Regions from separate parts of the Homo sapiens genome. Here all the other regions are linked to region 2. Evidence: fine-mapped expression QTL. A gene starts in region 2. Each other region holds a variant in brackets. All regions are shown on one strand. Distances are between the middles of the regions.

Region 1 (10,097 bases), 130 kb before region 2:
GGAGGAGAATGTTATAAAGGGCGCTAAATGCAAGCATGGGATGTAACGTGGGAGGGGGGTGGTGGAAGTAGGTGCTTGTGCAGCAGCAACAGGACCACAAACGTGTCCCAGGGAGACTAATGGGCAGCTCCAGGCAGGGTGGGCCTGAATGGGAAGGGCATCGAGATGGGCCAGAGGGTGGCTGAGGAAATCCTGAGGATGGAACATCTTGGGGACCAACTGGGAAGTGAGGAGCACAGGAGGCAAGCGGTCTCACAAGTAAATAAAATTGTGCAATTAAACTGTGCAGCTTGGTCAGTTGTGGAGTGGGAGGCAGAAAGCTCCCATCTGGGTGGGGACCTGGTGGGTGCAATGAGTACACTGCTGGGCTCAGAGAAGGTGGTGTGTTTATCATCCTGGATGAATGCAACTCTCTGTTTTTGGAAGCCTTTGCAAGAGATTCCAAAACTACTCTCAATAACTCATTTCAGTCTTTAATATGTCTCCAGGCCAGAAGATTCCTGCTCCCATCCAAAAGAGAATTCTTTACTTTTAGAGCACATTTTTTCCCTCTCTCATTCTTTCCTGAACTGAGATGAAGAGTAAGGAGGTGCAGTCACTATTTCCTGTTGTGAATCCTTCACACACTTGAGGCCCATTCCCAGTACGTTCTCTGTTTCTCTCCAGGAAAAGTGATTTTGGATAACTTGTGGTTTTCTCATGGGCCCTTTAATCATATCTATGGCTCTTTTCTAGTCTTTTTTTGGGTGCATCTTTGGTCATGGGGCACAAAACTGGGCACATGGAGAGGCAGGGAATTGTAGCAGGCTAAGAGGAGATGTGGAGTGGACAGGCCTAGGTGTGAATCGTAGCTTCTCTAGTAACTAGTGTGGTCTTGAGCAAGTTGCATCATCTCTATGAGCCTCACTTTTCTCATCTGTAAGATGGATCAATAATACTTACACTTGGTGAGTTGTGCCACTTAAAAATAATGTACATGAGATTCTTGAAAGCTCTCAATAAATGATGGCTACTATTGTTGGTATGGGTTGGAGCAGGACTGATTACATTGGGAAAACCACCTTTCTAAACACTTTAATAAATGAGCTCATGGTTATTCATGCTTTAAAAACTATACTAGGCCAGGTGTGGTCACTCACGCCTGTAATCCCAGCACTTTGGGAAGCCTAGGTGGTTGGATCAACTGAGGTCAGGAGTTTGAGACCAGCCTGGCCAACATGGTGAAACCCGCTCTCTACTAAAAATACAAAAAAATTAGCTGGGCATGGTGGCGCGCACCTGTAATCCCAGCTAATCAGGAGGCTGAGGCAGGAGAATTGCTTGAACCCTGAAGGCGGCCATGTCAGTGAGCCGAGATAGAGCCACTGACTCCAGCCTGGGTGACAGAGAGAGAGACTCCGTCTCAAAAAAACAAAAATAAAAACAAAAACTATACTACTGCATAGTTCAGACAGCAACTCTTGCTATCTCTGGTGGTCAAATAAAACACAAACTGGTTCTTTTGAGATACAGCAAAACTATAGACAGGACCCAGAATCGTGTTGAAAGGATAAAATATTTTTCATTTACCCTGCACGATAGTAGAGCTGCATAACATCTGAAATAGTTATTTCAATTGTGAAGGGACTTGGGTAATGGTATCTTTAAAACACTCAATGACTGAACAAAAGCGTTGGGACTTTTTAATTGGAAAAGGCCAATAAAACTCCTACAGCAGATGAACTCACTCCATTCAGCTCCTTTCTATCACCTTCCCTTCATAACCTATAAATGCTACTATGTTAATGTTTTAAACTAGTGTCTAGAGCATGATCTCAAGTCAATAAAATTGTGCAATTAAAATGCTGAAAGAAAATATGTTATAGCGCTGAGTGTTTATTTCTTGGAGGAGGGGATGCAAAATATGATTTTTTTTACAATGAGCCTGAATGACTTATATAAAGAAAAATTAGTTTAAAAATGATATGTATAGCTTTATAAAAACACATTATCACAAATATTTTAAGGTATATCTATCAAGTTAACTGCTGTAATGCACCAAAATGGCAATATTGTGTTTCTCCATGATGGGAATATGAGTGATTGGTTTTTTTTCTCTTACTTTAACTTTTCTGAACTTTCCAAATTATTTATAATGATATTGCAATGTGCTATATAATAACACTGTCTGATGTATTATTTAATTACATGATAAATGTATTGATATTTTATTGAAAAACGTTTAAACAAGATAAATGATGAGAAAAATAATTCCATATATTTCTACATTGATGACTTACACCCTATTTAATATTAAATAGATGTTTATCTGCCTATATTAGAGAATCACCAAAATTCAGAGTCTTAATGGCTTCTGAATCATCTAACATGGTTATTATCTGATGTAGGATCTGTCTTTGTAATAAGAATATTAATAACAATCATAATAGCTACCACTGATGTGCCCGACTCTGTAATAGACACTTTAAATGCATTGTTCCAATAGATCCTCGAAATAAGCCTATGAGGCTAGTAGGTGGAACAATGCCCTGAAGATGTCCACGTTCTGATCCCCAGAGCCTGTGAGTATGTTAGGTTACGTGGCAAAGGGGCGAAGGGGGAATTAAGGTTGCAGATAGAGTTTAAGTTGCCAGTCAATTGACCTTGAGATGGGGAGAGGATCCTGAATTTTCTGGGTGGGTTCAGTGCAATCAGCGTTCTCATAAGTGGAAGAGGGAGGCAGGAGAAAGAATGTCAGGGGGACGCCATATGAGAAGGACTCGACTGGCCACTGCTGGCTTCAACAATGGGAGGGGGCCAGGAGCCAAAGAGTGGTGACACCTGGAAAAGGCAAGGAAACAGCTTTTCCCCCAGACTCTCCAGAAAGGAATGTAGCCCTGATGGCACCTTGATTTTAGCCCGGTGACACCTATTTCAGACTTCCAACCTCCAGAACTGTAACACAGCAGTGCCGTTTTTGTCGTTGTTGTTGTTGTTTTTTGAGACGGAGTCTCGCTCTGTCGCCCAGGCTGGACTGCAGTGGCGCGATCTCGGCTCACTGCAAGCTCCGCCTCCCGGGTTCACGCCATTCTCCTGCCTCAGCCTCCCGAGTAGCTGGGACTACAGGCGCCCACCACCACGCCTGGCTAATTTTGTTTTCGTATTTTTAGTAGAGATGGGGTTTCACCGTGTCAGCCAGGATAGTCTCGATCTCCTGACCTCGTGATCCGCCTGCCTCGGCCTCCCAAAGTGCTGGGATTACAGGCGTGAGCCACCACGCCCAGCCAGTAGTGTTGTTTTAAGCCACTAAGTTTGTGGCAGTTCATGACAGCAACAACAGGAAACTCACATAATATTATACCTCAGTTTTACAGGTGAGCCGACTGAGGTTCAGGGAGAGTAACTTGGTCAAGGTCACACATAGTGGTTAATGAGAACTCCAGGATTTGAATCCAGGTTGTATGATAATGGAACCTTTCCTACTGGGCACTTGCTTCCAAAATCATTGCCAGCATGGGCTTGAACGTAAAATAGGAAAACTCATCACCTTCTCCAATAGCTCACTGCACTTGAGGATGGCTCTGACCAGTAGAATTAATGTCCTATTTGGGGCTTAACCCAGTCTTGCATTCCAGTCACCTTTTCATTGATTAATTGTGCAAAATAACACAATTCCTGCTTTATACGAAAAGCCTTTTAAATATTTGAGGCCAATGATCACTTCTCTCTAAGGCTTCTCTTCTTTGGGTGAAACAATTCCAGATTCAGCCTTTTGCTCGAAGACATCTAAAGTTCCAGCACCTTCTCAACCTCTCCCTTCTGGAAAGCATCCAGACTGTCAACACTCACGTTAGGATCCAGCCAGTTCCTACCTTACTTTGAATTTGTGTGCTTTGATTTTCTTCCATAAGGTTATCGTGCTAACCTCAACTCTTGTGAACTGATTACACATTACATCTTGAGTTCTTTGATGGAAATATTTCTAGAAATCAATCAGTCAGTAAATACTGATAACTTTGGGATTATCTGGCCTATAGTCTTGAAAACATAGCGTGCTTTCAAGTTCCTTCTGATATGATCACAAACCGATTCTACTCTTTGTTGACATGAATAAGACCTTTCCTGTTCTAGCCTAGCAGGGGCTACAAGAAAAAGCCCATTAAGCTACAGAAAGAAACGGTTCTGGCCAGTGGGTAACCTTGTAGGGAGGCTTGAGACGCCACAGGCTGCTGCTGTGTAACAGTCTGAGAGGTTGTGCTGTCTGTTCCCACGCGGACTAGGGACCCAGGAGGAAAATGAAAGGATTGTTAAGAGTCAGTGTGATTTCATCATATTATTTAAAATACTACGAATGTTAGGGCAGGGAGAACTGCATACAAATATTAATAACAGACTCCCAAAATCTTTGATCATCCACCACTGTAGATGATCCACGTGGTTGCTCCCTTTTTTCTGCGAATAATCAAGAGTTAACTATAAACAATCCAACAACAACAACAAAAAACCCTGGACTTCTGCATTTGTGTAACGTTGAGCACCTGATGAAAAAAACATGAACCCATATTTCATTCATTTTACTCTCTGCATCTCTCCCAAAGAGAGGTGGGGAGGGTGGGGGACAAAACATTTTTGTGGCTTAGTATATAAACATTCAAGTAATTAAGTCAGTTGCTCTGTCAGAATTGACTTGAAAATCAAAGGTTCTTGAGCACAAAACATAAGGTTTGTATTTCTTTATAAATACCTACAGGAATAAGAAAAAACACAGAAAATCCCACAATTAATTTCATTTGGGGCTTTTCTGAATCCCAGATATTTAAGAAAAATAGTTTGCTATATTGAGGGAAGCAGGTGCAGACAGTCTGGACCTCTGGCTACCTACAGCAGGTCTCTTTTGAGGTGCCAAATATTAGATGAAGAGAGGCAAAGCCTAATTCAGGGCACAGAATGAAGACTTTGATGGCAAGGATTTTTAACTTTGCTATATTTGCTGCTGTTGAACCTTTATGCCTTGAGAAAGTCACACATCTGGGTTGTAATAGTGGGCTACCTCACAGGGCGCCAGGAAAGAATAACTTAGAAGGGTTTCATTTTTAGATATAAGAAGAAAATCTTATGTAAATCATGATATATTTTATGCTTGTGACGGCAGAGCATACTGCAGGTATTCAAGAGAGGAAGCCCTTCCTTTCATTTTCAGAACTGTGTGACTTGAGCTTTGTCGGTTTCTATTTTGTTCCCCACAGAACATCTCTGTCTTTATCTGAGGTCAGGGTTGGGGAGAGGTACGTGGTGGGTGAGGGGAAAGAAGTATCCGTGAGGGAGGGTTAGTCACATCCCCAGCATCTGACCACAGGGCCACTTGCCTACCTGCCATGCAGTCCATGACCCCTGCTAGTAAGCCAGAAGCACCCAGGGAGCACATGGAATCTGTCCTGCCACTCTCCTTTACTCACTCCTGCCCTGTTCCTCCTGAGGCCATTTCACCTGGGGTCTATGACCCCCTCCCTTGATCCTGCTAGCCTGGATTTGGCACTGGACTT[C/T]GAATCTCTAGTGTCCAGATCCCCAACCTCTGCCTCTTGGACTTCCATGGAGCCAGTGAAGGGGATTTCCTCTAGAGCTTCTGTCCTGTAGAATCCAAACCAACCAAAGTGGTGCCATATTCCCACCCCCAGGAGAAGGATTTGGGCAGATTCAATGCATCACTGCTGGGGTCTCCTCCAACTTTTAGTTGTCCTCCAACTTTTCAGGTTAAAGGCCATGTCAATGGAGCATTGATTCTGTGATAACTGAATCCAATTTGTCACTCCATTAAAAACAACCCTTTTATTGTCAATACTTTATCGTCAATTTAAGGCAATGCTTGTTATTCAATGATATTCAACAACAAATGTTTATTGCGAACCTCCTGTGTACTATGAACTTAGGTATTATGTCACTAAATACTTATAGCAACATTGCAAGATTTTCAAAAGAGGCAGCAAAGGATTAAGAAGATTAACTTGCCCAAGGTCACATAGCTAATAAGCGGCAAAGCCAAGTTTTGATGCCAACTTACTCTATACCCTGCTGCCTTCTTCTATAAATAGTTACTAAGTGCTTAGTTATTTACAAGGTATATTTCCAACCTCTTAAAAACTCAAGCTACATTAGGGCTTCTGGGGAGCCCCTCATCAGTGACTCCATGGGACCTGCTCCAAGAAAGCTAATATTTCAGAACCTGTTAATTAGTCAAGGGCTTTTGAGAAAGGTGGTCAGCTTCTAGTAGGAATGAAGCACTGCTTCGGTCCCTCTGAAGGGCCTAACAGGAAATAACTTGCTTCAGCCTCAACTGCTGAGAGACGCGGTCAAGTGGATACACTCAACAGGTTTAGAATAACACATTCCGCAAGTACTCTGAGTTTCTAACCAACAATGAAAACATTCCACAGTTAGACTTCTCTTTCTAGACACTCACTGACAGTGACATTAGAATTAGGTGGCTTTTATGTATAGATTTCATATGCAAAACCCTTCATGGAGACTTAATCTGGAAACTTCATGGTGGGCTGGTTTTTGGCTATCTGGAAGACTTTGACGGGATTCTTGGCTCCTCTGCTAGTACTGATTGCTGCCTGTTTGTGGGACTGAGAGTCCCTCTCCTTCTCCCTAAGTTGAAACCCTCTTTCCTCCATTCTTTTGACTTTATTGCAAACACCCTACTCTGTGACTACTGGCAAAAGTGTCTTCTTTTTATTAATTCCTCTGTCCTTGCCAGGGCCACCTCATAGGTGTGAGATGTGGACTCCAGGGCCCCACACTTAAGAGGGCTCAGTGCTTAGTTTAATGCTTTGCTGTCCCATTTTTGAGGAAGGGGCCTCACATTTTTAATTTTGCACTGGGTCACACAGATCATACAGCCAGTCCTGCTCCTTGCTGTGGACGTGGAAACAGGGAGAATGCTCACACCATACAAGGTATGACTGGATGGTGTACCTGTTCTCCTCCCCTTTGGAACTCAGCAGGCATTTTCCCACAGAGACAATCCATAAAGGCAGATGATGCCAATGACAGCTCCATCCTCCTTAGCCTCAGTTCCTTCATTTCTAAAATGGGGACAGTAGCACTTACCCTTGCATGTTATTGTGAGCAATGAGTGGGATGATGTATAAAGTACTTATCAGAGTGTCTGGTATACATCAGTGCTTGCTCAATGAAATCTATGTGAGACAGCAGTTGCGGCAAACAGAGCTTGGACTCTGGAGTGAAGAGCTAGGTCAGAAATTAAATTAGCCCCACTGCCTAAAAAATACATGACTTTTGTTAGTTGACTTGGTTTCTTCCAGTGTCAGTTCCTTTATCTGTAAATGGGAATGCTAATATTTATCTTGAAAGGTTGTTTTGTGATTTAAATAATTTAATGTATTTAAAGACCCTAGTTCACCACTTGGCATCTAGGAGGAGCTAAAAAAATGAAAACAGTTCTTAGTCAGGTTCCCCTTTAACACTATTGCTACACCTAAAACAACCAATTTGGCCAGGAGTGGTGGCTCACACCTGTAATCCCAGCACTTTCGGAGGCCATGGCAGGCAAATCACTTGAGGTCAGGAGTTCAAGACCAGGCTTGCTGACATGGTGAAACCCCATCTCTACTAAAAATAGGAAGAAAAGTTAGCCAGGCGTGGTGGTGTGTGCCTTTAATCCCACCTACTCAGGAGGCTGTGTAGGAAAATCACCTGAACCTGAGAGGCAAAGGTTGCAGTGAGCCAAGATCACACCACTGCACTCCAGGCCAGGTGACAGAATGACTCTTTCTAAAAAAAAAAAAAAAAAAAAAAAGACCAAAAACATCCCCCAAAAAGAAAACAATCCATTTGCAAATGATGTTTGGGATATGACCATTAATAAGTTCTTACATATTATACGACTTCCTGTATACTATATCACCTATGAAATGTAACCACCTTGTATGTTAAAATAATTTTGTAAAGAATACTTGAGCACTATTTTTCCTTTTCTTTTGCTAGACGACGATTTCCTTGAAGGCAGGGGCCACATCTTATGTGCCCTTTATTCCAGATCACTTTCAAACACTTTAGAATCTCAGTTGAATCAAATTTCTCTTTTGTTCTTTATGCCAACAGTGAGACGATAATCTCCCTAACATTCCTCAATTAGCAATTAATGATTAGCCTATTGATAACTAGGAGGTAGACAGGGCCAAAAATAACCCCATCTCTGCCGTTAAAGGCCTTTTCTTTTTTGCCCATCATACATGGCTCGTATTCCTGCCTCCTCGGTTCTGGTTCTTGCTCCATTAATGAAACTATTCCATCAGAGAACATAACTTGGTTTTCTGGAACCCACTATCTTCCCTGGCAACAACCCATCTAGAGAGGCCATGGAGGAAGAATTTCCTGAAACCCCAACATTTGAGTCATAATTTGATGCCTCTTAGGATTCAAAGAGGCCTCAGACCTGTGACTTTTAAACATTTTGGGAGTATAGGTTCCTTTAAGAATCTTCTGATAGTTATGGACATTCTCTGCAGAAAAATACATTCAGTACCTTAGTACAATTTCAAGGTGTTCTCAAAACCCCTGAAGCCCTTGGATCCCAGGTTAAGAATTCTTGTTAGAATAGCCAAGAAAAGGGAATCAGCAACGTGAATGATTCCGGTTTCCTGGTAAGTGTTCCGGACCTGACTAGTCACTCTCCCTTGCTGAAAACAAAACAAAACAGAACAAAACACAGCAATGACAACTCCCAAGATTTAACCTCAAGATTATCCCTGAGAGTCCAAACCTGGGCAGTAATGGTAAAGGCTTCCGGCCAAGCAGTAACTACTCTTTGGAGAACCTCAGTTCAGCTGAGTAAAATAGGCCTTGTTTGATAATGCCGTTTACATTTCCAAATCCTGGGTATCAAGCTTTCTTCCTATGCCTTGCGGCCTTTCCTAAGTTTAGCCGCTGGTGTAATGGGGTAACCATGGCAACAACCACCTGCCTATTTAAAACCATCTCCAATGCTAAATAAGGAAGCCTGAAGAAAATGGCTGCTTGCCTGCCTCTCAGTGGACAAATTGGGCACTCCTGGGTATTTTAGACATGGGCGAATAGGCAGGGTAGAAGCAGTATGTATGCAAAGTTCTTCATAGGAAGCGTTCGGTGACCTTGTGAAATAGGTGCTACCTCAGCCCTTCTGTCTTCGTTTGTTAGGCGAGCACGCAGGTTTACGTGCAAATCCGTGGGCCTGTCACCATGTCATCCATGCTACCTTGACCTCAGTCAGGTGAAGAGTGAGCTGAGAACCTACCCTCAGAGAGAAGTATTGTTTATAGGATCTCGGAAGGGAGAAGGAAAAACAGTTCTACAGATCACAGTGAATTTGTTCATACTTTGCATTAAAATGCACGCTACAATCTTTTTTTTTTTTTTTTTCTGACGGATGTGTCTTTCTAATTGTACTTAATCATGTGGGTGATGGATGATTGCTCTATTTATGTCATATGTTGGCCTGCCTATTGATTTTTGGCATATGGAGAAATTTCTCCCTCCCTCTGCTTCCTTGCTTTCTGGGAATTACAGATGTTTGGTTTCTTTCCTCTGCCGAGACCATACAACTGATCACACTGAACATCTTGCTCTTCCACAAGTATACTGCACCCTCTCACTCCTTCGTATCTTTTCGTACATTTGCTTCCTTCTCCCTGTGTTGCCCTCCTCTTTTTCCGTGTCTTGGTTCAGGCGTCTCTGTCATTGGAAAACCCTCCATGCCACGTTTCGTGTCCTTGGTTTTTGCTCCCATAGGTCACCTCCAGTTACATCACTTAACACAAACCATTCTGCACATCTGCTTTCCAGCCTGTTTCCAGCACCAGGCTGTGAGTCCCCTACATGCGTCTGTCCAAAATGCCTGTAGAACAGTGTCTGGTGTGCATTACGTTTTCAAAAGATCTGCTGAATGAATGGATGAATGAATGAACAGAGCCCCGTGGCTTTCACAAGCATATGGCACATGTGCATGAGTACGTATAAGGATACTTGTGTGAGGCCGGGTGCAGTGGCTCAAGTCTGTAATCCCAGCACTTTGGGAGCCTGAGGTGGGTGGCTCACTTGAGGTCAGGAGTTCGAGACCA
Region 2 (10,097 bases):
TAGACACACACTTTGCTTGCACCAAGCTTACACTGTAGCACAGTCCAGTTAAACTTTTTGCAATGATGGAAATCTTTTAAATGTGCATTCTCCAATATGATAGCCAGAAATCACATGCTGCATGTAAGCACTAGCAATGTGACTGGTGTGACCGAGGAACTGAATTTTAAATTTCATTTAATTTTAATGAACTAAAGTTAAACAGGAAATAGTCACATGTGAAAACAGACAGCACAGCTCTAGACACCTTTCAGGTATATTTCTGGGACTGACTAGCCTGAGCAGAATAAAGGTATGCTGAAAGAGAAATGCACGTAAAGCATCCAGTACAGGACCTGGAAAATTCTCTTATTCGTTCATTCGTCACATTTAATTGTTGACTATGGATTGGCACTATCTCAGGTGCTGGGGATACAGAAAAGGATTAGACATGGTCTCTGCCTTCAGGGGGCTCATAGTTCAGTGGGAGATATGCAAATAGTGACTTCGCCATAGCGAGGTAAGCTTACGCACAGGTGCTGTGGATTCAGGACATCTCTAGGGTGGGCTTCCCTGAAGGATGTTTCCGGACCTGAGCTGAATCTTGCATAAATTGATCTCAGAGTGGGAGCAACAACAGATTATATTCCAGGGCTACTAAACCCACTGCTGGTGGCAGAGGTGGCTTGGAGATCAACGAGGCTCTAGGAACAACTCATAGCTAGGGCCAGTTTGTTTTCTTCTAACCCTTTGTGTGTGTGTGTGTGTGTTTTGTATTGCCTAATTCAATCTCTCTTCTGCCAGCCACATTTTGTTTCCACCTGAGGACATTTTTTTTAAATGATGGGTATAACTTTATTTTTAAATTGTTTTATTACTATTAATAGTTACTAGCCTTGATTTCTTTTTTTTTTTTAGTCAGACAAACTCTGTTACTTATAAAGTGACATCAGCTCTCACTATGGTTGGGTGTGGAATTCTGATACTTGGTACAAATAAACAACTCTTTGAATATGGCCAGTATGTGAGGAAGCTGTTGCTGATGGGTTAAGCTTGCTGAACCTGGCTGTGATCATGATGCACGTTCACAAGAGTGAATGTTGTTATAATGACTTGTATGGAGAAGTGGGACATTATACACATTTGTATATTTTACATGATGGTTTGATTTGTTCAAAGTTAGTATGTGACATTTAGCTAGAGAATTCTGCAGCTGATACTTGCTCACATAAAAATAGGTATAGCTTTATGTTGTATGGTTTCCATAATCCCTCCCGAGTGTATAAAGCAAGGTGATATGTGTGATTCCTTCTTCCATGAGACTGAAGAATGCTCGTGTGATGTGGCTTGGTCGTGTGAGGCCTTGGCCTATTTGGATTCCTAAAGGTCATCTGCTTGAACTATGGCCGAGTTGTTTCTGGTGAATGGAATCCTAAATTAGTGTACCCTTTTTGAAAAGTGGCTTCTCATATATACTGTGAGCCTTAAAACATTCATGCCCTTTGGCCTGGTGATCTATTTCTAGGCATCTATCCAAAGGAAGTAATGGGAAGTGTGTGCAGTAAAGACTTTGCCCAGAGTTATTTGTAGTTGCTAAAGACAGGAAGCAACTTAAATAACTAACAGTGTAATAATATGCAGCCAGGAAAACAATGTTCATGAAGGTCTTTTGCTACAACACTAATTCAGAAAAAAGCAGAGAACCAATAGCTACAGGGGCTCAGCAACCATACTTTTGAGTCAGACAGCCTGGGTTTGAATCTTGATTCTGCCACATACTAGCTATGTAACTTGGGCAAGTCACCTGAAGTCTTAGAACCCTAGAAAAATGCAACCCTAGAAAAATGGGATTGATAGTAATAACACCTCAGAGGGACTCCTGAGGATTAAAGGATATAATGAATATAAAATTTAACACCATGCAAAGTATACTTATTAGGCACCCAATAAATGCTGGCTCTCTATGGATTGTATAATTTCGAGGCATAAAAACAGATGGAAAGGAAATATGCCAGTATATTAACAGTGTGGGATGGGAGTGGTAGGATCATGGGTGATTGATTTGTTCTTTGCATACTTTTCAACTTCCCAATTTTTAGGCAATGAACATGAATTACTTTTATACTAAAAGAGTACATTATAATGATGTAATACAATAAGATATACATTTTAAAAGTTTTAAAGTTTTACCACAAAGAAAAGGTACTTCCCCGCCCTTTTCCCCCTTCTCTTCCAGGGGAGGAGATGGGGCCAGCATCCACCAACTCCCATCAGTAGGAGAGGGGAGAGTTGCTGGCTTCTGGGTTCTTTCCTCGCAGAGGCTCACACATGCACAGCCTGGGCCTCTGGGAGTGTCCGGGTTGGAGGGATCCTCACCATCTGTTGATGGTGTTGTGTGGGGAGTTGGAGCAGTTGGGGGAGCTGGAACAGATGATCTTAGTAGTTACTCCCATCTCTGAGAGTCTAGATTTCAAGACACGCTGATGTTTGTCGTTTTCTCCCCATGTCTCGGTTGATCTGAACCAACCACTCCATAAAATTCTAAGGTAGGAAAGACTCATCTACTAGCTTCCCACCCTAAAGCCCCTCCCAGAAAAATACCTGTAGTAATGCCTATAGTGCTGGGTGTAAACGTTAAGGGTGATTGGCAAAAAAGACATAGATCAGGAGTACGACCGGGAAGTTGGCTTAGTTGCAGCCGTTTTATTTAAGGAGTATAATTCATATTCGGAATGGAATCTCCAGCAAATGTAGTCTTTTAATATGACAAACAGTTAAGTACCTTCCCATGTTAGACACATGCCTGGAATGAGAGTGAGAGGGACATAAAATATAAAGGGGTGTGTGTCTGTGCCTGGGTTCATGACCAAACCTCGACATTTGCCCTCTATGATCTAATTTCCTTCATTGACAACCAGGGTGCCCTGTGTGCCAGCAAGTGGCTCTGCCAGCTGTATTTTACAGACAGAGAATCCCAAGCACCAAAATAACAAAGTTGATTCCCCCATCCAGACCAGAGGGGTCGTTTCCAGTCCTGTGTCCTGACCACTGTCTCTCATCATGACCCCTGGTGTTCACCTCCAGATCCAAAGTGTCGTCGCCAAGCCCCCAAAATAAAGGAATGACAAACAGCCCTCCCAGGCCCTCCTCCCCACAGAGAGGTCATCGTATGCTAATGAAGTCCGAGGAGGCAGCGGCGCAGCGCGGGAGAGCGCGCCCACGGGTTCACAGCGCTCCCGGGCACCACTGCGGCGCAGCCACAGATCGCTTCGCGCTGCAGCAGACGCTCCCGCCGCGGGGGGCGACTGGGGGAGGGGTCTCGACCGCCACCCTGAGTTCCGCAGCTCATCCCTCCCATCTGGGAGGTGGTTCTAGCTCTAGTCCCAAGCTTTCCACTGCAGTGATGGTGGGGATGGGGGCAGCACGTCAAATCACCTGTAGGGCTTTTTAGAACTCCACAGCCCCCTCCCCTAATTCTATTCCACTAGTTCAAACGAAGAAAATCTCAGACTAGGCAAGGGGAGGTGGACCGGTGGAGTCTGCGAAAGCACCACAGGTGACTCCGGGTACGCACTCCTCAGGACACAAGCACACACACGGACACATCTTGTGACTCTGAGACTACACAGATCAACCTCAGATTCGACCCTTCCCTCCTTTATTCTCTGAGGTGTCCGTGTTCGCTTCAGCTTCCCTTTAAGTCGCCCTGCGCAGGGGCTTTGTGGAGTGCCCCCAAAGTCCTAGAACCCCGCGGGACGGTCGGAGGCTTTGGCGGCCAGACATTAGGAAAAGCATCTCCTGCTTCTCGGACTGCCTGGAGCGCGAACTGGATATCAAGGAGCCAAGGTTAAGTCCAGAAGAAGAAGGAAATCCGACCAGTTGCTTTAGCAAACTGCCTGGAGCAAGGCCGCCTCCCACCCGCACAGCTTTGAGGCTTGAGGGGGCCTCTCAGTCGCAGAGAGAGCCGAGCCCCACCCTGTGCGTTCCCCAAGCCTGCACCCCTCGAGCGGGGCATCCCTTCCTGCAGGGCTTTGTGGCAGGTGGAACTGTCGGGGTGGGCGCCGTGGCTTTGGCTGCAGCCCCTTCCCTGGCCGCGGGACCGGCTCCCGCTTTGCCCTCCTTTACCAAGTTGCTGCACCGGGTGCTCCCTGAGCCGGGGACCCCCTCCGCCGCGCCGGCCGCCGTCTTACCTCACCAGGCAACACTTGGTTGCGCGGTGGCCCGGGGCGCTCCTTCTTCGCGGTTTATTCCCTTACTTGGGAGGAAAGAGGAACCGAGAGACAGAAGGGGGACCGAAGCTGGCCTCTGGGCGTCTTCCCGCCTGCGCAGCCCTCTCGGGGGAGGGGGATGCAGCCCCAGTGGGTGCCGCGGAGACCAGGCTGCCAGGCTGTGGTTGGTAGCGCCGGGGTCTTCACCCTGTGCTCGGAGTTCAGCAGCTCCAAAGCTGTCTATCTCCGTGGCCCGCTACTACGGCACTGCGGCTCTGTGCCCTGCCCCTCGCAGCCTGGCAAGTCCAGCTGCCACTCTCACTGCGGAGCCCTGCCCCCGGGCGCAGAGCCCGCCCCCGCCACACACACCGGCGCGCGCGCGTACACACACGGCACACACAGACACGCGCTTCCACACATGCACACGCGTGCGCACACACGAATGTGGATCCGCTCGATGGGAACCTGACCCCCTTTGGTGCAACTAGGGCGCGGGCATCATTAGGACGCTTTTTACTGACAGGGCTTCGGTTTGGGAGGAGGAGTTACAGGCTTAGGAGTGTGGAGAGGATGCAACAGTGGTGGGTACCAGAGGGCCCCTGACCCCGGAGGCAAAGGACAACTGTTTGACAAATAAATACCGACTGGGCGTTTCCTTTTCTCAACTCTGGTCAAGGCTACCGTAATATCCCGACCAAATCGAAGAAAAAATAAAAATACAAAATCAACAAGTTCTCTTTGTTTCCCAGGAACTCAGTATCTCTAGGATCCAAATCACTAGCCCTGTCCAGAGGGTCATTTCTGACAACCTTGACTTCGGTGGCAGTGGATTGGTGGCAGTTCAACTCGAAAAGGTTTTCCCCTCGTAGCCTGGTGGAGACTGGCACAGCCTGCCTGAGCTGGACTCTGTTGGATGGGTCGGGTCTCTGGGTGTGTTTAATTCCCATTCTCCTTTGCTTTTAGGTGACCTTGGACTGTATTCCTGCAGAATAAATAGATCTCTTCTTTTTTTAAAATGTAGAAGAGCACAGAAAAGACGCTGGGGTGAGGGGTCGGGGGGAATAGGGGAGCTACATTAGCCAAGGCACTATGACTTGTTGCTTCTCTTTCCATGACGTGCATGTCCACGTGAGGGGGTGATGGTGGTGGTGACACTATTTCAGGCATGTCACACAGCAAGATGACTGCTGTCCATTTCACACCACATTTAGAGTCATTAGGAGTTTAGACTGTCATCTTTAAAATATGTGGAGTTTACTCATTTCCACAGCCGAGAATTCTTTTCTGCCAGTGGGCAGTGAAGGTCCCCGGGCCAGCACTGCAGCCAAGAAAAGCTTTCCGCAGAGTGTGGAGGCGCCGAGGGGCTCTGGGTGTCTGTGCATTTGGGGAAGAAGCCTCAAACACGAATGTCAAACAGCCCTGAGGACCCTGTTGGGTGGTGTCCATACTAGGCTATCTGCAGGCAGGCTGGTGAGACAGATGAGAAACAGAGCTGAGAGATCTCCTTAAGATTCCACACAGTGATGAAGACAGAGCTGATACCAGAACCCCGTGTTTGCGACTCCTCTTATCCTCTGGGTCTTATCCATTCTATCACCCTGGGTGGCTTCTCAAAGTTTCCTTCAGCTAGGCTGAAATAATCTTGGTGAGGGTGCCTTCAAAGTTCTTCCTTGTCCTTTCTTTTTTTCCTCTTCAGTCACTGACTCATTCATTTTACAGCTATTTATTAAACTCCTACTCTGTCTTCAGGTGCTTCCCCGTAACTCCAGTCCTGGGCCTTACTTGGGAGGAAAGAAGAACTGAGAGACAGAAAGGGCTTAGAACTGTCCTCATCCCTGGAAGAGAGGAGCCCTGAGCACAGGTTTCTGGTATATATTTTCACTCTGCTAGGTTGCATGGATGTGGAAGACACAATCCTTGCTTTTTTTGACTGCATGCTCAATGGAGGAAAATGCACATACATGTCACAAGAAAAACATTCTGGCTGTCTATTCTTGACTCCTTCTAAAGAAGGCTAAACTGAAGGAGACCCTGTGTTTGGCTGAGCATCATAATGGACTTGGGGTACATGTTTGCAAATAGGTGTTAGGACAACATTGAGTTGCTCTGCCTATTAGGACAGGAAGGAAATAAATTGAATGGAACAAATGAAGAAGACATGCAGAGACTGAGTGTGGAGCCTTAGCTTCGTTGAGAGCACATTGGGGAAGGGTAACGAGAGGGGAGGAGCTCTGAGGACAGGGTTGCCAAGCAACTTGCCTGAGAACAGGCAACAGGGTTGCCAAGTTGTCCAGGGATTTGGACAGGGGAGATGCTTGCAAAGATTGGTAAGTAGTTTGCTGTGGGGTGGGCTATGAAAGCCCCCGGTCCTATGAAAGAAATCATTTGTAAAGTCAATATTGTTCATCGGTTTGCTTGCAAATGGATTCCTTTAGGATCAGGATGGAGCCAAATGATGCATCTGAGTTGCTGCAGAAGGAGTTCAGAGAAGGCTGTGTGGACTGAGTTACATGCTAATAACATGGAGGAAAAGGGTGGTAGTAGAGGCTGAAGCAATGTGGAAGGCAAAGAGGGATGGGGCGGGAAGAAGCACCAAGAACAATTAGTGCTAATGGAGGCATCATGGAGGAGGTAGGGTTTGCGATCGGATTTTAAAGGGGAATAGAGATCTCACTTAAAGATCAACAGGACAAGGGCAATCTAGGCTGGGAGAAAGCAAAAGCAGAGACGTAGGACAATTCATGGTGAGTTCTGGGTCTTCCCAGCACAAGAAAAGAAGGCTGGGACAGTATTGTGGGAGTCTCCAAATGCTCTTCTGGGAGCATAGACTTGGGTTCCACAGTGAGGAGCTATGGCAGGTGTGGATTTTTTGTTGTTTGTTTTTGATGGGAAATGAGCTGGGAAGCAAGCTGGGAAGTATCTGATGCCAGCTTTCCCAAGGTAGGCCTTCCCCATCAGAATGGAGCACTGTGGGGAGGGAGTCCTTGTTGCTGCTCTCACGAAGAGCCAGAGCCCAGGTGGCTTATGTGGCTTGCTGCAGAGGGCACCCAGCTAAGGGGCTGAAATCCAACTCATGCCCCACTTGCCCAGCCACACAACCTGTTAGGGTTATGTCTGCCTGGAGGGAGGGATGCCTTTTCTCTAATTTGCATGGGCTGACAGAGGCCCTGCAACTGAGCTCTTTATTTGAAAAGGCTGAAGCTACGGTGAAACAAGTGAGGATTTATTGGGCATTTGCTGTATGTGCAAACATAAGGTAAAGCAGAAAGAGTCTTGAGGTCAGGACTATCTGTGAGTCTGAGCATGTCTCTGCTCTGTGGTGACACCCTGAGACTTACTGTAGGGTACAGAGGAGGAAGCTTAGTGCCTCTCCTCAAAGATTTTGCAATCCATGTCAGTTATAAAACAAACGCTCCACTGGTTAAGAAACAGTGAACGACAGTATGGAATCAAGTGCCAAATTGCACAGGGCAGATTCTCAGGGCTTGAGAAAGGAGACCTCCTCTGGGCTGAAAGAGTCAAGGCAGGCTTCATGGAGGAGGAGGGCTGGGTTTGGCAGTGGAGCATGTGTATGTTGGTTCTCAGCCAGAGAAAAGACCTGCGAACAAAAAGCCAGAGGAAACGAAGCTGGGGGCTTCTAAGCATGGATTTTTAGCCGCCACAGCCACCCTAATGCCATTCCCAATTGTAGCCCAAGCGCTGTGATGAGTCACCCTTGTTTCTGAGAGACGGGGCATTTTTGGATGTTTAACTGGTTCAACACTTTACATTCCCTGAGACTTCAATGTTGGCAGCTCACACTCACCATGTTGCTCTGGGAACACATCATCCAAGCCAGCAGCTGATGCCTGATCTCCACTGCCAAGGCAAAGCGAGGGCTGAGTCAGGTACCTGTGTCTGGAAATTTTTAGTCCCACTGTCTCTGACAAGCTGAGCGAACAGCACTTGACAGTTGGAGCACAGCTGAGTTCAGGGTCACCAACCGCAAGGTGGGCCGGGGGGGTTCTGCTCGCCTTCTTAGGCCTCACTTTTCCCATGTACAGAACACAAAGGATTATACCAGATTATCTCCAAGCTGTCTTCCACCTAATATTTTATGATCTCATAATTAATGGAATCTTTCCATGTTATCAAGCAATGACAGGATGGGAACAGATACTAGCCAAGTCCGAACCTTAACTTTCCTCTTGGTTTTGACTGTGAAGGCTGTGGTGGAGTGAGACTGTGGGTTGGAAACAGGAGAACCAGGAGCTCCTGGTCACAGTTTTGCCATGAATGGGATTTGGGATCCAGCCCTGGGAATGTAGGCAGGAGATTCCCTCATTTTAGTTTTCTTAGAAAATAAGGAGGCTGGAAATGGTCCCTACAACCCTTTCTGGCACTGATACTCTGTTAAGTACTAGCAACTGAACAACTTTTAAGTACCGCCCCCTTGCCTGGGTGGGGCCCTCCACAAGGCAAGCTGGGAAAATTCTCACAATATCAACTGATAAGCTTGAAGGAAAGCACAAAGGAGAAGCCATGGGGTTCAGAATAATAAATAGATAATTTAGAATTAGATGGAGTCAAAAGAGCTAATCTGAGTCTCTAAGCTCCAATTTCCTCTTCTGCAAAGTGGGGATAGTAATACATGCATCTCAAGGTAATGATTAAATGAAGAAGCTTATTTGAAAGTGTTTTAGAAGTGCTATGCAAAAATGTAAAATACAGTTATTGAAGATAGTCTGTTCCCTTAAGGTAGTCTATTTTTTAAAGCCTAGTTATTATACTACTTGCTAATGTGTCTGCTTCCTAAGAAACAGCAATTCAGGTCAGCAACTCTTTATACACCACATTAAAATATAGTAATATTTTAACATGAAAGATGCTGGTGGACTTCAGGACTACCAGAGTGCACATCTGCCCCCTGCCTGGAATTCTACAGTGTCACTGGAGTTGCCCACAGTGGATTTCCCAGGAACTTTGATTGTGTTTACTTGACAGTGAAGGAGACACCTACCCATCCAAGATCCTGCTTTGATGCTTGCCTATCCGGAGACAGATGGTGGAAAGAGGGGAAGGAGGCGTGAGTGAGTAGGGAGAAAAAAGGAGGCTTTCTTCTTTCTGTTATATTTTGGGCAAAGGATGTTAAACTTTATGCTTTAATGAGCTTGTAAAAAGGCTAATTTGGGTTCACTACATTACTCCAGGTCTGTTTTCTGCTATGTCTGGTCAAGAGACACCGCCGTGGAACTCTTCACTGTTGTCCCTGGAGGGGAAGCTTTTCACAGGAAACGCTGGGAAGAGCCACAGAGGGGAAAAGGTTCTAACTCCCTAAATGACCATTTGCTTCAAAGCCTGCCCAGCCCGCAAAACTTTTGAAAAGATCAGTCTAGTTTTAGAAATCCTGGTCACTTCTTTATCTCCTGTTAACCAATTTGGGGGGACAAAATGTCACAACATGTTAGCAATTGAGGGAGCCCCAAGTGCCAGCACTTCTCTCATCTGTTCTTCTCATTTGCTGCTGCCAGAGTAACTTCTGAGAGTTTAGACCCCAAAGCCCCCTCTCTTTGTTCAAAAGCCTTCAAAGCCTCAGATCCCTCATCCTTAAAAGGGACATAATAATACTTAGGCATAGGCTTTTATGGAAGATAGAAGAAATATTTATGAACAGTCTACAATAGGATTGGTCACATAGTAGGTTCTGGATGAATGGAATTATTGTTATTACTGCCTTAAATAGAGAGAAATAGAGAGTCCCTAAAATGGCATTCAGGGCCCTCCACGAAGTGGTCCCAGGTCACTCATCCACTTGCACGTCCGGTAAGCTTTTCGAGGACATGGTGTGCACGCTGCCCGGCTTTGTCTTCCCAACACACCTTGCACCTGCCCCTCCCTGTCCTGCTCAGGCTACTCCCACGGCTGGGAGAA
Region 3 (10,097 bases), 74 kb after region 2:
CATCCAAAGACGGAATCCTCATCCTGTTTATTGACACTGGGGATTTGGATAAGCTGCTAGTAATACAGAGATGGCAGTTTCTAGAGATATGCTGAGGAATAAGAAACTGGTTTCTACTTCTCTCCTTATCTCTGCTCTCAGCAGTACCTATTTTATTGTTGAGACTTCTGTGACCTTAATATGTCTATTCCCCTAATGATTTTATTTTTGGTCAAAGTGAAAACATGCTGTAGAGTAAAATAGGTGGTTCAAATGGTAAGTGAAGAGCAGTCAATTAGCTTAAACAACTTGAGGAAGATAATATACATATTTTATTTTAAAATAAAGTAGCCATATAACTTATTAATTTATGTTTTTTGAGGCAGGATCTCACTATGTTGCCCAGGCTTGTCTCAGACTCCTGGCCTCAAATGATCCTCCCACCACAGTCTCCTGAATAGCTGCGGTTATAGGCATGAGGCACCACACCGAGCAGCAAAAGCTGTTGTAGTGGGGAAAAAGGTGGCAGGCTGTGAGCAGAAATTTCCAAGTGACTACAGGAAGTCCCTAAATTTTATTGTTGTACATTTATCTGTTCATTTGAAGCTTTGTAAAAATTGTCTCTATCTTGGCTCTCACATTTTTTGTGCCCTCATTTTGAACTCTCTGTCCCTAAGTAATATCAAACAGGTTTAAGCAGTCAAAGTATCTGAGATGCTGGTACTTGGCAGTATCTTAAACAGAAGGAGGCAGCAGGTTGGAGAGAAGGAGGAGCTCTCCTGAAAACTGTAATCACAATTATGTGAGCACCTACTATGTGCTAGACCCTATTCAAAGGCAGAGGAAACTGACCCATGGGATGGATACGCTGTAAAGAATTCCAACACCAGCCCTGCAAGGTAAGTTAATAGTTATGCTAACTGCTGTAACAAATCCAAAGTCTCAGTGACTTCACAAAACTTAATTCTAGTTCATGTCACAGTCCACTGAGTCAAGCAGCTCTCCCGAGCAGCTGTCTTCCAGGCAGTAGCCCAGAGATCCAGGCTCCTTCTATCACGTGGCTCTGCCATCTCAGAAGCTTTCACTTCCAGCCATGGCCTCGGGGAGAGAAAGAACATGATTAGTCAAACTGGGGTTTTATGACCAAGTCTGAAATTGGTATTTGTCACATCACTTGATTACATTAGCCGGAATTAATCATATGGCCCCAAACTAACTGTAAGAGAGACTGGGAAATGTGGCTTTCCTTGATGCCAGGAAGAGATCAGTGAGCCTCTGGCCAGAATCTGCCAGTATTGCTGTAGTCACTCCTTTACTGATAAAGAAATGGAGGCTCAGAAGACAGCAACTTACCCAAGGGTCAAGCAGCTGAAGTGGCAGCATTGGGACTCAGCTTAGGTATGCTTGGCCCTAAAGCCCATGTTCTTTCCATTATACATCTACCTCTGCAATCAGCTCATAGGCATCCCCCATAAGCCACACAGAAGGGAAGAACATGTCAGCCTAAGCTCACTGCCCAAGCCTTTGTCTGCATACTTCTTCTGATTTATAACTGACGGACTGTAGTTCAGATCTGACCATCTGAGCAAGCCCCATTGAGGCTGGGACACTCTACCAAAGAACCAGACTCCCCTCCTCCTGTGGGGGTTCTCTCATTTATGCAGGTTTTCTTTAATGTCTCCCAATAGTGTTTTGTGGCTTTCTGGGTATGGATCCTGCACATCTTTCGTCAAATCTACTCCTAAGTGCTTCAAATATTTTGAGACATTGTAAACAGTATTTTTAAATTTTAATTTCTATAATATAGAAATAAAGTAGATTTGTGTATATTAATTGTGTATTGTGCAACACTGTTAAACTCATGTATTAGTTATAGCAGCTGTTTGTAGATTGCATTCTTTCTACATGAATGATCATGTCGCCTGCAAATAAGAACAGTTTTATTTCTCCTTTTCCAATATGGATAACCTTATTTCTCTGTCTTGCCTGATGGCCCCAGATAAAACCTCCCATATGTTGTTGAATAGGGATGGGGAGAGCCAACATCCTTGTTTTGTTCCTGGTACTAGGGAAAAAGCATTTAATACGATGTTAGTTTTAGGTATTTTGTACACAGCCTCTATCAGGTGGAGGGAGTTCCTTTCTATTCCTAGTTTTCTAAGAGGTTTTTTTTTTAAAATCAGGAATGTGTTTAGATTTTGTCAAATGGCTTTTCTGCATCCATTGAGATGATCACACGTCGCTGTTGTTGTAATCTGTTACTATGGCAAATTACATTGTTGATTCTTGAGTGTTCAACCAACCCAGTACTATTCAACTTGCGTAAATCCCACTTGGTCATAATGTATTGTCCTTTTTATATATTGTTGGTTATTTGGTAAAATTTTGTTTCAAATTGTTGCATCAATTTTCATGAAGGATATTGGTCTATAGTTTTCTTACAGTGTCTTTGTCTAGTTTTGGTTTCAGGGCGATGCTGGCTTTAATGAGAATGAGTGGGGGACTATTTTCCTCTCCACAATATTGTAGAAGAATTAATGTAGAATTGGCATTATTTCTACATTAAATGTTTAGTACAGTCCTATCTTGAATGCTCTTCTATATATTCTGTGGGCTCTGAAACTTGGGGCAACACACGCCTGCTGGGGTTTTGCCTGTCTTTCTCTTTGAAGGCAGAATACTGTTTCCATCCTTCAGCCCTGGAAGGATAAAGGAAATGTGGAAATGGTTAAAGATGAGGGACAGGAGTGGGGGCATGATATCTCAATGCATCCTTTAAAAACAAAAGGTGAAATTCATGTAACATACAATTAACCGTTTTAAAGTGTTTCATTCAGTGGCATTTATTACATTCACAATGCTATACAACCACTACCACTAGCTAGTTGTAAACATTTTCATTATCCCAGAAGAAAATCTCATACTCGCTACGCAGCCACTCCCTATTCTCTCCTCCCGCTAGCTCCTGGCAACTCCTAATCTGCTTTCTGACTCTGTGGCTTTACCCATTCTGGATATTTCGTATCACTGGAATCACACAATATGTGACCTTTTGTGTCTGGCTTTTTTCACTTAGCATGATATTTTAAAATTTCACATATAGTGTAGCATGTATCAGTACTTCATTCCTTTCTATGGCTGAGTAATAATCCATGGTACTTAGATACCACGTTTTGCTTGTTCATTCATCACTTGATGAACATTTGCATTGTGTCCACCTTTTGGCTATCAAGAAGGGTGCTGCTATGAACACTCATGTGTAAGTATGTGTTTCAGCACCTGTTTGCAGCTCTTTGGGGTACACATCTAGGAGTGGAATTGCTGGATTGCATGGCAATTCTGTTTAGCTTTTTGAGGAATCACCAAATTGTCTTCCACAGTGGATGCACCATTTGATATTCCCATCAGTAATGTGTGAGGGTTCCAATTTCTCCATATTCTTGCCAACACATTTTTTAAATTAGAAATTTTTTTATTGTGACTATCCTAGTGGGTGTTTTTTTGTTGTTGTTTTTTGTTTTTTTTTTTAGGATAATAAGTCCTTTATTCTTTTCTTTTTCTTTCTTTTTTTTAAAATTTTTTTAGTATTTATTGATCATTCTTGGGTGTTTCTCGGAGAGGGGGATTTGGCAGGGTCATAGGACAATAGTGGAGGGAAGGTCAGCAGATAAACATGTGAACAAACGTCTCTGGTTTTCCTAGGCAGAGGACCCTGCCGCCTTCCGCAGTGTTTGTGTCCCTGGGTACTTGAGATTAGGGAGTGGTGCCTTCAAGCATCTGTTTAACAAAGCACATCTTGCACCACTCTTAATCCATTTAACCCTTAGTGGACACAGCACATGTTTCAGAGAGCACGGGGTTGGGGGTAAGGTTATAGATTAACAGCATCCCAAGGCAGAAGAATTTTTCTTAGTACAGAACAAAATGGAGTCTCCTATGTCTACTTCTTTCTACACAGACACAGTAACAATCTGATCTCTCCTTCTTTTCCCCACATTTCCCCCTTTTCTATTCGACAAAACCGCCATCGTCATCATGGCCCGTTCTCAATGAGCTGTTGGGTACACATCACAGACGGGGTGGCGGTGGGGCAGAGGCGCCCCCCACCTCCCAGACGGGGCGGCCGCCGGGCGGGGGCTGCCCCCTACCTCCCGGATGGGGCGGTTGCCGGGCGGAGGGGCTCCTCACTTCTCAGACGGGGCAGCCGGTCAGAGATGCTCCTCACCTCCCAGACGGGGTGGCGGCGGGGCAGAGACACTCCTCAGTTCCCAGACGGGGTTGCGGCCGGGCAGAGGCGCTCCTCACATCTCAGAAGGGGCAGCGGGGCAGAGGCGCTCCCCACATCCCAGACGATGGGCAGCCAGGCAGAGACGATCCTCACTTCCTAGACGGGATGGCGGCCGGGAAGAGGCGCTCCTCACTTCCCAGACTGGGCCGCCAGGCAGAGGGGCTCCTCACATCCCAGACGATGGGCGGCCAGGCAGAGACGCTCCTCACTTCCTAGACGGGCCGGCAGCCGGGCAGAGTCTGCAATCTCGGCACTTTGGGAGGCCAAGGCAGGCGGCTGGGAGGTGGAGGTTGTAGCGAGCTGAGATCACGCCACTGCACTCCAGCCTGGGCAGCATTGAGCACTGAGTGAGCAAGACTCCGTCTGCCATTCCAGCACCTCGGGAGGCCGAGGCGAGCAGATCACTCGAGGTCAGGAGCTGGAGACCAGCCCGGCCAACACGGCGAAACCCCGTCTCCACCAAAAAAATATGAAAACCAGTCAGGCGTGGCGGCGCGCGCCTGCAATCCCAGGCACTCGGCAGGCTGAGGCAGGAGAATCAGGCAGGGAGGTTGCAGTGAGTGGAGATGGCAGCAGTCCAGTCCAGCCTCTGCTGGGCATCAGAGGGAGACGGTGCAAAGAGGGAGAGGGAGGTGGAGGGGGAGAGGGAGAGGCAGAGGCCTAGTGGGTGTTAAGTGGTATCTCATTGTGGTTTTGATTTGCATTTCCCTATGGATTAATGATGTTGAGCATCTTTTCATGTGCATGTTGGCCATTGGTATATCTTCTTGGAGGAAATGTCAATTTAAGTCATTTTCCCATTTTCAAAACCGGATTTTTAAAAATCTTTTTGCTGTTGACTTTTATGCATTCCTTGTATATTCTAGATATTAGGCCCTTATCAGATATATAATTTGCAAGTATTTTCTCCCATTCTATAGGTTGACTTTTCACTTTCATTTTTAACTTTCAGCATGACTTTATTTTTTTAATCAACAAATTTTAAAAATAGTATATATTTATGGTGTACAACATGCTTTTAACATATGTATACATTGTGAAATGGCTAAATCCAGCTGTTTAACATATGCATTACCTTCCCTACTTATCATTTTTGTGATGAAAACACTTAAAATGTACGCTCTTAGCAATTTTCAGATATATAATATATTGTTATTAACTGTAGTCACCAGGATGTGGAATAAATCTCTTGAATTTATTCCTCCTGTTTAATTGAAATTTTCTTCTTTCACCAATATCTTTT[C/T]ACTTTCTCCATAATGTTTGTGATATATAAAAGTTTAATTTTTTTTTTTGAGATGGAGTCTCACTCTGTAGCCCAGGCTGGAGTGCAGTGGTTCCATCTCGGCTCACTGCAACCTCCGCCTCCTGGGTTCAAGCAATTCTCTCACCTTAGCCTCCTGAGTAGCTGGGATTACAGGTGGATGCCACCACACCCGGCTAGTTTTTTTATTTTTAGTAGAGATGGGGTTTCACCACGTTGGCCAGGCTGGTCTTGAACTCCTGACTTCAAGTGATCCTCCCACCTTGGCCTCCCAAAGTTCAATTTATCTATGCTTTTTATTGTTGTTGCTCACACTTTGGATGGCATATCTAATAATCCATTGCCAAATCCAAGGTGATGAAGATTGGCCCATGTTTTCTTCTAAGAACTTTACAGTTTGAACTCTTACATTTAGTTTGTTAATCCATTTGGAGTTTTGTATACGGTATGAGGTGGGGGTGTCCAATTTTATTCCTTTGCATGTGTCTCAGCACTTAATGCATATTTTTATATCATTTTGCTTTTTGTTTAAACTATAGGAATATATTAACTATCAAAATTTAAAAATATATTTTTAAATGGGAAAAAAATAATCTTTGTTAAAAGAGGAGCAAATTGATAGTGAGGCTAAGATGATGATCTGTAGAGCAGGACTGCCTGGACTGGAAGCTTGGCTTCTCCACAAGCAAGCTGATTGATCTTGGGCATGTTATTTAATCTTTCTGTGCCTCAGTTTACTCACATATGAAATTAAATAACAATAGTGCATACTTCACAAAGTTATTATGGGAATTAAGTGAATTAACACATTTAAAGTATATAGTTGTTAGTAAGCCCTATACAAATGTTTTTTAAATAATTAAATAAATAAATTTTGAAATTTCAGATACTCCAACCATTGTGTCCATTGCTTAGGCACCAAGTTTTCTGGAGAAGCAGGGCCTGAGTGTAAGGAACCAGAAGAAAAAGTACTGAAAGTTGTCAGTAGCATACTGTGAGATGAAAAACCCAGTTTTCTTTTTTTTTTTTTTTTTGAGATGGAGTCTCGCTTTGTCACCCAGGCTGGAGTGCAGTGGCACAGTCTCAGCCCACTGCAAGCTCCGCCTCTGGGATTCACCCCATTCTCCTGCCTCAGCCTCCCGAGTAGCTGGGACTATAGGCATCCGCCACCATGTCTGGCTATTTTTTTTTTTTGTATTTTTAGTAGAGATGGGGTTTCGCCATGTTAGCCAGGATGGTCTCGATCTCCTGACTTCGTGATCCACCCACCTCGGCCTCCCAAAGTGCTGGTATTACAGGCGTGAGCCACTGCGCCCGGCCTGAAAAACCCAGTCTTCTATCCCAATTCCCTGACACAGAGATGCCATTGGTCCTCGCAAGAAGGGCTTCCACCCTGGGCCTGTGCTTTAGTGGGCTCCACGTAAACACAAACACACAACAAAACATATTTACAAAGAAACACATGGCTGCCTCTGTTACTGGCGCAGTGTAACCCATAACCTTAACATCCACCGCACAACTCACGTAGGGAAGCGTGTCTTCACAACCCTTGCCCTATGTTCTTGAAACAAAGGACACAGTGTTCAGATGATGGGACAAAAGGACACCGTGTTCAGATGATGGGAAGGTGTGTGGGCTGTGCTGCTGCTACCACTGAGTCTTATCAAAAGATATGTGGGGAACATTTTTAATGACAGAAGTGCCCATATAAGAGAAAAGACACGTTGATTAACTTGTGAAATCTCTCTGTTTCAGCATTTTGTATAATGAAGTATCGATTTCCAGTAGTGCTAAATATCCATTTTCTTTCTTCTTTTTGTGTGCCAATTCATGGTTTCAAAGATTCTCACAAATTAGTGCACTATTCAAAACAATTGCACAAGATGCCTGGGGAACATTTTGCAATATTAAACATTTCACATCACTTTTAAATGTGTGTGTGTATTTATGGAAGTTTGATAATGATTCTTTACATTGGCAACTAGATGGACATTGAACATGAAAATTGCAAATAGTTTTAATTGTATAAAAATTAATAATATTTAATTAAAACTTAAAAATTAAATAAAAGGTTTTTCAGCTTTATTTAAATATTTTATTAAAACACTGGTATTCATTCACTATCATTTAGATTGTATCACTAAACAATCATTTTGAAAATTTTAGAAAAACTTATGGAAAATATATATAAAAATAATTTTAGTTTTTTATCTTTCATATTTACCGCAATTATATTTTTATTAAGTATACTCAATTTGGTATAATTTCAATGCAATTATATCTTAATTTTTAATACTTTAGATCAGTGCAACTTAATACAGTTATATGTCGCTTTGTGACAGATATGTCCTAAGAAATGCATTGTGAGGCAATTCCATCATTGCACAAACATTATGGAGTGTACTTACATAAACCTTGAGTGTAGTCTACTGCACACCTGGGCAATATGGTATAGCGTATTGCTCCTAGGCTGCCAACCTGCACAGCATGTTATTGTACTGAACAATGTAGGCAATGTAACGCAATGATATTTGTGTATCTAAACATACCTAAATGCAGAAATGCTGCAGTAGATATACAACATAAAAGATTGTTTTTAAGTCCACCTGTAGAAGGCACTTACCATGAATTGAACTTGCAGGCTTGGAAATATCTCTGGGTGAGTCAGTGAGTGAGTGGTGAGTGAGTGTGAAGGTCTAGGACATTACTGTATTCTACTCTATGCTTTATAAATACTGTCCATTAGAAGACACTAAATTTATTTTAAAATACTTTTATTTCTTCAGTAACAAATTAACCTTACCTTACTCTCTTTTACTTTATAAACTTTTAAATTTTTTTAAAACGTTTTGACTATTTAGTAATGACACTTGGCTTAAAACACAAACATTGTAGAGCGGAACAAAAATATTTTATTTCTTTATATCCTTACTTTATAAGCTTTTCTCTATTTTTGAAATTTTTAATTTTTACTTCTTAAACTTTTTTGTTAAAAACGAAGACACAAATACACACATTAGCCTAGGCCTACACGGGGTCAGAATCATCAGGATCACTGTCTTCCGCCTCCCCTCCTGTCCCACTGGAAGGTCTTCAGGGGCAATAACAAGCGTGGAGCTTCATTTCCTCTGATAACAATGCCTTCTTCTCGAATCCTTCCTGGAGGACCTGTCTGAGGATGTTTTCCAGCTAGCTTTTTTTTCATAAGTAGAAAGAGTACACTAAAATAACAGCAAAAAGTATAGTAGATACATAAACCAGTACCATAGTCATTTATTATCAAGTATTATGTACTATACATAACTGGATGTGCTATACTTTTATTATACAACTGGCAGAGCAGTCAATTTGTTTACCCCAGCATAACCACATACATGTAAGTAATGCATTACACTATGATGTTACCATGGCTACACTATCACTAGGTAATAGGAATTTTTCAGCTCTATTAGAATCCGATGGGACCACCATTGTATATGTGGTCTGCCATTGGCTGAAGCATCATTATTTGGTGCATGACTGTAGAACTTTAAGCAATGATGAAAATGCTCTATATCCACACTATCCAATATGGTAACCACTAGCCACTTGTGACTACTGAGTGTCTGAAAGGTGACTGGTACAACTGGGGAACTGAATTTTAAATTTTCTATAATTTAAATTAAAACAGCCACATTTATTTTATGGCTATTATATTGTATCCTATATCATATCATATTTATATATCATATCATATGTTACATGGTATATCATATTACAAATGCAGCTTTAGATCATTACTTTCCCTAGAACACAAATTACATGAAAATCTTGAGTACAATGACATAGTTACTGATTTTGCCAGGATAAAGGAAAAAGTAAATGTTATTTAAAAAGCATATAATTTATGAATTATTAATATCTTCATTGATTATTCATCCAAACACCACAGGCCCATCAACAGAATTCCCAGTATATGCGATAATAATTATGTTCAGTCATCGTTGACGTTTTGCCAGCTTTCAGTCAATTAGAAACTTTGAACTTTACTCGTATTTTTCTATCTAATCATTATGAAGATATATTTGTCAAGGAAGGAGAATAGAAAGCATGTTGTTCAACTCTTTGTGATTTAGAACTGTTAAATATAGTCATATGATATGCAGGTTCTGCTTGAATTCTTGCCCTGGCTCTTGGTGAAGGATCGGCCTGCTGGATCTGAGTCATCCACCTATAAGAGGGACAACACCACACATTGGTCGCTGCTCTCAAGCCCCTGGAATACCACCCCACTTGGCTTCTCCTGGTAACAGTGGCTGCCTTTGCTTGCCTGTCTCCAACTCCTCCCAAGAGCATTGCTGACTGTGAGCTGTACCTTTGAATCTGCAGGGGCCCTTCCCATCTGTCTAATATTTGCTATCAGTGAAACAGAAAAACCCTTGGGACACTGTCAGGGAGCATTCTGGCCCGCAAAATGCCTACCAACCACCATGCCGTTCTCATTCTTGCCATTAGCAACCTTCTCTTTCTCTACATCATCAGCGTCCTATGTGCACTCATTCTAGAGGGCCAATAATTCTCACAGATTAC

What was found. PIP is the estimated chance that this variant, and not a neighbour inherited with it, causes the effect.
Region 1: its variant is the best candidate, but not a certain one, in a credible set for the expression of DGKG in monocytes (Quach 2016, PIP 0.61).
Region 3: its variant is the best candidate, but not a certain one, in a credible set for the expression of DGKG in tibial artery (GTEx, PIP 0.88).

What each region holds. Positions count from the first base shown.
Region 1 is chr3:186,230,518-186,240,614 of GRCh38, forward strand. All of the region lies in intron 20 of DGKG (diacylglycerol kinase gamma), which reads right to left. Among named protein-coding and RNA genes, the nearest start is that of ETV5, 130 kb to the left of the region's middle. The variant C/T (reference allele first, on the strand shown) is at 5,523.
Region 2 is chr3:186,357,777-186,367,873 of GRCh38, forward strand. It overlaps DGKG (diacylglycerol kinase gamma), which reads right to left and starts at 4,458. Exons shown (of 25, transcript NM_001346.3): 1 at 4,170-4,458. RefSeq lists an enhancer at 3,226-3,743 and a silencer at 4,528-4,617.
Region 3 is chr3:186,431,309-186,441,405 of GRCh38, forward strand. LINC02020 (long intergenic non-protein coding RNA 2020) reads left to right here and starts at 9,037. Exons shown (of 4, transcript NR_151710.1): 1 at 9,037-9,140; 2 at 9,674-9,813. The variant C/T (reference allele first, on the strand shown) is at 5,511.